2 linked regions of the Homo sapiens genome follow. The protein of the gene in region 2 interacts with the protein of the main gene of each other region in a pairwise test. Each region holds a gene or a part of one and is shown on either strand. Other genes may lie near its edges. The genes, in order: INTS1 and DEAF1.

Region 1 (3,804 bases), on a different chromosome or scaffold from region 2:
CTCCAGCGTAGGAAGACCTGGTCCTGAGACTCCGACTGTGGGAAAAGAGGTGGAGTCAGGCCGTAAGGTTCAGGGACCCTGAGCCAGCGCCGAGGGTACCCAGCTGGCACCGAGCGTGCCGTGCAGCCTCACCCAGCCGTAGACCTCCTCGCCCTCACCCGGCCGTAGACCTCCTCGCCCTCACCCAGCTGTAGACCTCCTCGCCCTCCTTGCTCTGCCGCATGCGCCTCACGTAGCGTGAGAAGATGGACAACAGAGCGCTCAGCACGGCGTCCGACGCGGCACTCGGGGAGAGCTTCGAGAAGAGGTGGGACATGATGGTGGAGCGCTCCACGACCAGCCGGGCCACGTCCTGGTGTGTGGACAGGGGGGCGTCAGAGGCTCCGAGACAGCTCTGCTCTCCGGCCAGCTGGGGTGACCTCGTCGCAGGCACGCTCTCACTGGGATCTTAAGCAGGGCCCGCGGCACCGCAGACCCTCACTCAGCCGCAGGCCGCCAGGGAAGACGACCAGAGCTGGGTCGGACTCTCCAGGGGGGAGGGAGGACACGACTCTCACAGCCAGGGACAATGACCAGGCCCTGAAAGCGGACGCTGCTGCCCTCTGCCCGGCAGCCACCATCTGTTCACCTATCGCTCATTCCCTGAGGACTCGGGCCACCAACTTTCACTAGGTCACAGCGCAGGTTGTGGACAAGAGAACCGTGATGCAAAGTGAGAAGCAGCCCAGCAGAGAAGGACAGCACCCAGGAGAGAAGATGGGAGTCAGCGCCACACATGTGAGCTAGAGATGCTGAGGACAGCGGGCAGGTGCCCAGCGACCTGGGCCCACAGCCCAAACCCTCCTGGCGTCGGGGAGAAGGCTGATGGCTCAGATTCCACCCTGCTGTGAACAAGGCACCCTCACCCCCGTGGCTTCGCATCCTCAGGGTCTGGGGAGAAAGGCTCCAGGGAGTGAGTGGTGACTAAGGAAGGGACACAGGTGGCCACGGGGTCATAGAAGCCCCAGCACAGCAGCCGTGACGGCCCTCCCACCCTCAATGCCTCCCTGTGGCCCAAGAAGCCGCCAGCCCAGGGCACTGCACCACTGGCCCCTTACCCTCCCCAGGGCAGGGTCTCTGTGCTGACCCCGTCCCCTCCCCAGGGCCACACTGCCGGCTGGCCCCGTCCCCTCCCCAGGGCCACACTGCCGGCTGGCCCCGTCCCCTCCCCAGGGCCACACTGCCGGCTGGCCCCGTCCCCTCCCCAGGGCCACACTGCTGGCTGACCCTGCTGCCTCACCAGGGCCAGGTCGCTGTGCTGGGCCTGCTCCTCCACAGGCGTGTGCTGGGACAAGTAGATCAGGTAGGCGCTGATGGTCTGGGGATCAGTCTCCATGTGGATTGCCTGGAGGGGAGGGTGGTCTGAGCGGCAACAGGGCAGGGCTGCGGCCCTCTCATCTTTCCCTGCCGCGGCCCCGGTCAGCGCCCTCACCTGCTGCAGGGCCAGGGCTGTGGTGCTCCTGACGCTGTCGAACAGAGGCAGGCGAGGCAGGTCCCGCAGCAGCCACTGATAGCCCTGCAGCACATCTGTGTCCCCCACATCCTCCTCCATGGGGGGCTCCTTCTCCTCCCCGTCCCGCAGGCTGCCCTCCGAAAGCACCAGCGACAAACCCTGTGGCAGACACTCATGAGCTGGGCCGGCTTTCGGCAGTGCAGGCAGGGTCTCACCCTGGCCCCGGGAGCACACGCATGGTGCCCTCAGAGCCCCGAGGAGAATGTGGCGCTTGCTTCCCACGGGAGAGGCCGCAGGTAAAAGGGAAAAACGAGACTGAGCTCTTTCTGTTAAATGCTTCTGTTCAAGTTCCTGAAGCCACTCTGGACCCTCCCGTCACCAGCAAGAAAGGAACACCAGGCAGGCGGCAGGGTCCACCTTCACGTTTCACTAGCGCATCCTTCCTACGCAGGGAAGGAACTTAAAATACAGTCAGAGTGCACTGAACACTCATTTGATTTTTACTTTTCCTTTTTAAGACAGGGTCTCATTCTGTTGCCTAGGCTGGAGTGCAGTGGTGTGATCACAGCTCACTACAGCCTCAAGTGATTCTCCCATCTCAGCCTCCCAAGTGGCTTGGACCACAGGTGCATGCTGCCACACCCAGCTCATTTTTCTCATCTTTTATTTTTTGTAGAGATGGGTATCATTATGTTGCCCAGGCTGGTCTCAAACTCCTGGGCTCAAGTGATCCTCCTGCCTCAGCTTCCCAAGTAGCTGGGAACACAGGCACACACTACCACACCTGGCTAATTTTTTCAGTTTTTGTAGAGAGAGGATCTTCCTGTGTTGCCCAGGCTGGTCTCAAACTCCTGGACTCAAGTGATGCTCCCACCTCGGCCTCCCAAAGTGCTGGGATGACAAGAGCAAGCCACTGCCCCAGGCCTACTCATTTTACTTCTTTATTTTTCATTTATTTATTTTTTTTTTTTTGAGATGGAGTTTCACTTGTTGCCCAGGCTGGAGTACAGTGGCACAATCTTGGCTCACCTCAACCTCCGCCTCCTAGGTACAAGCGAGTCTCCTGCCTCAGCCTCCAGAGTACCTGGGATTACAGGCCCCCTCCACCACGCCCAGCTAATTTTTTCTATTTTTAATAGAGACGGGATTTCACCATGTTGGCCAGGCTGGTCTCCAACTCCTGACCTCAGGTAATCTGCCTGCCTTGGCCTCCCAAAGTGCTGGGATGACAGGCGTGAGCCACCGTGCCCGGTCCCCAGCCTACTCATTTTAAACATGAAGAGCGTGCGCAGAAAGACCCGCCCACCACCTCACCTTCATGGCCAGCACGCGGGAGGCCACCTGGGAGGAGCCGAGGCGCCGCAAGAAGTAGTCCAGCACCTCACACGTGGTCTGCTCATCAGCCTTCGGGCCCAGTAGCAGGTCCTGCAGGCGGCCCAGCAGCTGCCGCTGCTTCTGTTGCCTCTGCAGGGAGGAAGGGGCTCTCAGGGGTGCAGGTGACAGGCCAGGCGGGTAGGACGTGGGGTGCGCGGCTGGTGGGCTCAGGCATGGGTTGCCCTGACAGGGGTGCGGGGTGAGAGGCGGGGGGGCTGAGGGGTGGGCGGCCCTGACCTGCCGCTTCTTGGCCTTCTGCTCCTTGCTCTCGCCCTCGTCGTCCTCCTCCCCGGAAGCAGCATCGTCCACAGCATCGTGCAGCAGGAACTCGCACAGACACTGCACGGGCAGCACGTCCAGGGAGCCCTCGCTGGACTGTACCAGGTCCGCCAGCCAGGGCATGGACTGCGAGGAGGCCTGGGCAGGCGACAGTGGCGCCCGCTCAGCACCTTCCAGGCCCAACACCTGCCGCCAGCCCCCCGGGTGACCGCGGAGCCGGAAAGGGCGACACGCAGCAGCCAGCTCATGGGCCCCGCATCCAGGTGTGTCCTGCCCTCTTCTGGCCACCAAGGCCTCCGGAAGGTTCCGGGCCTCCCAAGACCACCATCTCTACCTCCTGGAGCCTCGGCACTCACCTGCCGCTGGATGATGTGGAGGAGAAAGTCAGGGTTTCGGCTGCGGCACAAGAGGTGCCCGAGGCGGAGGGACTGGTTGAGGCTTTTCACTTGATCCAGGATGTGAGGGGGAGGCCTCCGGGGGGGCCCCCTGAGGGCCACAGGGGACACGGTGCGTCAGCACGCCCTGAGCGGATCACCCCCAGAACCCCTCCTCCTCCCATCCCTGCTTCGAGGGGCAGCCGACAGCCCGAGACGGGCAACCCATCCTGACCTGGGATGTCCCCAAGGCCTGGCCCCACAGCAGTAAGCCAGGGACGCGGG
Region 2 (3,804 bases):
CGCTGTGTTGAGCAAGGAGTTGACCATCTCTTCTAGGTACAGCCAGCTCCGCGGCTCTGACAGCTCCAGCCCATTGACCAACGCGGGAGGTGCCGCTTTGGTGGGAGTCGGGGGTGGGACCGCCAGCGCAGGCAGGGATGTCAACACTAGAGCATTTGGAAAGCAAAACAAACCAAGAAATTAATACATCTCCTAGCTTCAAAATGGCCTCCGTTAAAAATTCTCAGCCGGGCGCGGTGGCTCACGCCTGTAATCCCAGCACTTTGGGAGGCCAAGGCAGGCGGATCATGAGGTCAGGAGATCGAGACCATCCTGGCTAACAGTGAAACCCCGCGTTTCACTGTGTTTAAAAAAATACAAAAAAATACAAAAAATTGGCTAAAAAAAATACAAAAAATTAGCTGGACGTGGTGGTAGACGCCTGTAGTCCCAGCTACCTCGGGAGGCTGAGGCAGGAGAAAGGTGTGAAGCCGGGAGGCAGAGCTTGCAGTGAACAGAGATGGCACCACTGCACTCCAGCCTGGGCAACAGAGTGAGACTCCATCTCAAAAAAATAAACAAATAAAATTTAAAAATAAAAAATAAATAAAAATTCTCATCACCCGGTGCAGTGGCTCATGCCTGTAATCCCTGCACTTTGGGAGACTGAGGTGGGAGGATCACTTGAGCTCAGGAGTTCAAGACCAGCCTGGGCAACATAGCAGGACCTTGCCTCTACAAAACAGAAATCAAAAACAAAGAACTAGATGGGCATGGTGACATTCACCTGTGATCCCAGCTACTCAGGAAGCTGAGGCGGGAGGATGGTTTGAGCCCAGGTGGTCGAGGCTACAGTGAGCCATGACTGCGCCACCGTCCTTCGGCCTTGGTGACTTAATGAGACCCTGTCTCAAAAAGAAAAGAGGCCAGGCACAGTGGCTCACACCTGTAATCCCAGCACTTTGGGAGGCCGAGGCGGGCAGATCCCTTGAGGTCAGGAGTTCGAGGCTAGCCTGGTCAACATGGTGAAACCCCATTTCTACCAAAAAATACAAAAATTAGCTAGGCGTGGAAGCGTCTATAATCCCAGCTACCTGGGAGGCTGAGGCATGAGAATCATTTGAACCTGGGAGGCAGAAGTTGTGGTGAGCCGAGATGGTGCCAGTGGACTCAAGCCTGGGTGACAGAGTGAGACTCCATCTCAAAAAAGAAAAGAAAAGAAAACTCTCACGCAATGTTGGGAAGTCGGGTAAAAAACTGACCAGCAAACAACAAATCACTGCCTGACATCCCCCCAGCACCTGACACCCCCCAGCACCTGACATCCCCCAGCACGCAGCCTGACATCCCCCGGCACCCGACATCCCCCGGGGCACCTGGCACCCCCCGGCACCCGACACCCCCCAGCACCCGACACCCCCCAGCACCCGACAACCCCCAGCATCCGACACCCCCCAGCACCCGACATCCCCCCCAGCACCTGACACCCCCCAGCATCTGACATCCCCCAGCACCCGACACCCCCAGCACCTGACATCCCCCCAGCATCTGACATCCCCAAGCACCTGACATCCCCCAGCACTCAGCCTGACATCCCCCAGCACCCGATACCCCCAGCACCTGACATCCCCCCAGCACCTGACATCCCCCAGCACGCAGCCTGACATCCCCCCAGCACCCGACACCCCCAGCACCCGACATCCCCCCAGCACCCGACATCCCCCCAGCACCTGACATCCCCGAGCACTCAGCCTGACATCCCCCCAGCAGGCAACACAGGCAGGAGGATGTCCCATCCCTTCCTGCTCCACCCACCCAGCTCCATGTTGTACAACTCATCTGAATGCGGCTGCTGGACCCTGAAATGTTCGCAGAATCAGCGCCGTGGACAATGACCAGGGGAGGGAAGTGGCTAAATCAGAGTCTCGCTGTGTCGCCCAGGCTGGAGGGCGGTGGCATCATCTTGGCTCACTGCCCTCCCGGGTTCAAGTGATTCGCCTGCCTCAGCCTCCCGAGTAGCTGGGATTACAGGCATCTGCCACCAGGCCTGGCTAATTTTGTATTTTTAGTAGAGATGGGGTTTCTCCACGTTGGTCAGGCTGGTCTCGGACTCCTGACCTCAGGTGATCCACCCGCCTCGGCCTCCCAAAGCGCTGGGATTACCGGCGTGAGCCACCACGCCCAGCGGGGTTTCTTACAATTGGAGAAGAAAGTTACAAAGGAACTAGCACAAACCCTGAGGTTCTGCACTGGAACTAGAGACACTGGGGCAAACTCATGGTTTTCAACACACACAGATTTGGAGCACAAACACGCACACGTGCACATGAGAACATTTCTGACTTCTGCCCACCAAGGGCACCTGGGGACAGAGATCCAGGAGCCACATGCACACCTTGTACCAGGGGCAAGCGGTCGATGCGAACCCCAGCCCTCCTGGAGAAAAAGCTCTGATTTCAAGCATTTGCTGATTTCTTGGTATAAATACTTCACCAACACCCACCCCACACTTTTTTTTTTTTTCCAGTTAATAGAGATGGGGTCTCCTTATGTTGCCCAGGCCGGTCTCAAACTCCTGGCCTCGGCCTCCTAAAGTGCTGGGATTAAACAGGTAAGCCACACGCCTGTAATCCAAGCACTTTGGGAGGCCAAAGCAGGCAGATCACAAGGTCAAGAGATCAAGACCATCCTGGCCAACACGGTGAAACCCCATCTCTACTAAAAATACAAAAATTAGCCGGGCATGGTGGCGCGTGCCTGAAGTCTACACTCCAGCCTGGGCAACAGATCAAGACTCCATCTCAAAAAAAAAACAAAAAAAGGATGAGCCACCACGCCCAGCCCTGAGGTAAGCTTTAAAGATGGAAAGAGTTTAGATAGGCAAAAGAGAGAATAATGAAACAAGCAAATGAAAATGAAAAGGTAAGTTTTTCATGAACAAGTTTCTTGCGCTGTCTGTGACAGTGAAAAATGGAAAACATGCATTTGCCACCAGCAGGGGAGGGTTCAATCAATCATGTATTGATCATATGCACCCTTTAAAAAAGTATAATGATGGCTGGGCACGATGGCTCACGCCTGTAATCCCAGCACTTTGGGAGGCCAAGGCAGGTGGATCATGAGGTCAGGAGTTTGAGACCAGCCTGACCAGCATGGTGAAACCCCATCTCTACTAAAAATACAATAACAAAAAAAAATTAGCTGGGCATGGTGGCGTGCACCTGTAGTCCCAGCTACTCAGGAGGCTGAGGCAGGAGAATTGCTTAAACCTGGCAGGCAGAGGTTGCAGTGAGCCGAGATCGCACCACTGCACTCCAGCCTGGGCGACAGAGTGACACTCTGTCTCAAAAAAAAAAACAAAAAACGTATAATTATACAGAAATCTTGGCTGCATGTGGTGGCTCACACCTGTAATCCCAGCACTTTGGGAGGCTGAGGCGGATGGATCACTTGAGGTCAGGAGTTCGAGATCTGTAATCCCAGCTACCTGGGAGGCTGAGGCAGGAGAATCACTTGAACCAGGCAGAGGTTGCAGTGAGCCAAGATTGCGCCACTGCACCCCAGCCTGGGCAATAGAGCGAGACTCAGTCTCAAAAAAATAGAAGTGCAGTTAAACGAAAAATCAAAGTTAGAATGCATTTACAGTGTATCGTCATTTTAAAGATTTAGGCCACATTTAGGCCTTGGTTTTTCTTTCTTTCACCAGATACCGAATGTCTATGCCAGCTCTGGAGAGACCAAGACCTGCCACTGGGGAGTGTCTACCCTCAAGAGGACAACAGCAAACTCACCAGAAAGAACTTCAGGCTTCACAGGCCAACTGGT

What was found.
Region 1: the proteins of DEAF1 (region 2) and INTS1 interact in a two-hybrid assay, tested with the Homo sapiens proteins (one large-scale study listed by IntAct).

What each region holds. Positions count from the first base shown.
Region 1 is NC_000007.14:1,483,819-1,487,622, forward strand, and holds part of INTS1 (integrator complex subunit 1), read right to left. Parts: intron 3,632-3,804; coding exon 3,502-3,631; intron 3,284-3,501; coding exon 3,104-3,283; intron 2,957-3,103; coding exon 2,807-2,956; intron 1,652-2,806; coding exon 1,472-1,651; intron 1,385-1,471; coding exon 1,280-1,384; intron 353-1,279; coding exon 185-352; intron 36-184; coding exon 1-35. UniProt on the Homo sapiens protein: Component of the integrator complex, a multiprotein complex that terminates RNA polymerase II (Pol II) transcription in the promoter-proximal region of genes.
Region 2 is NC_000011.10:674,638-678,441, forward strand, and holds part of DEAF1 (deformed epidermal autoregulatory factor 1 homolog), read right to left. Parts: intron 147-3,804; coding exon 1-146. UniProt on the Homo sapiens protein: Transcription factor that binds to sequence with multiple copies of 5'-TTC[CG]G-3' present in its own promoter and that of the HNRPA2B1 gene. Down-regulates transcription of these genes.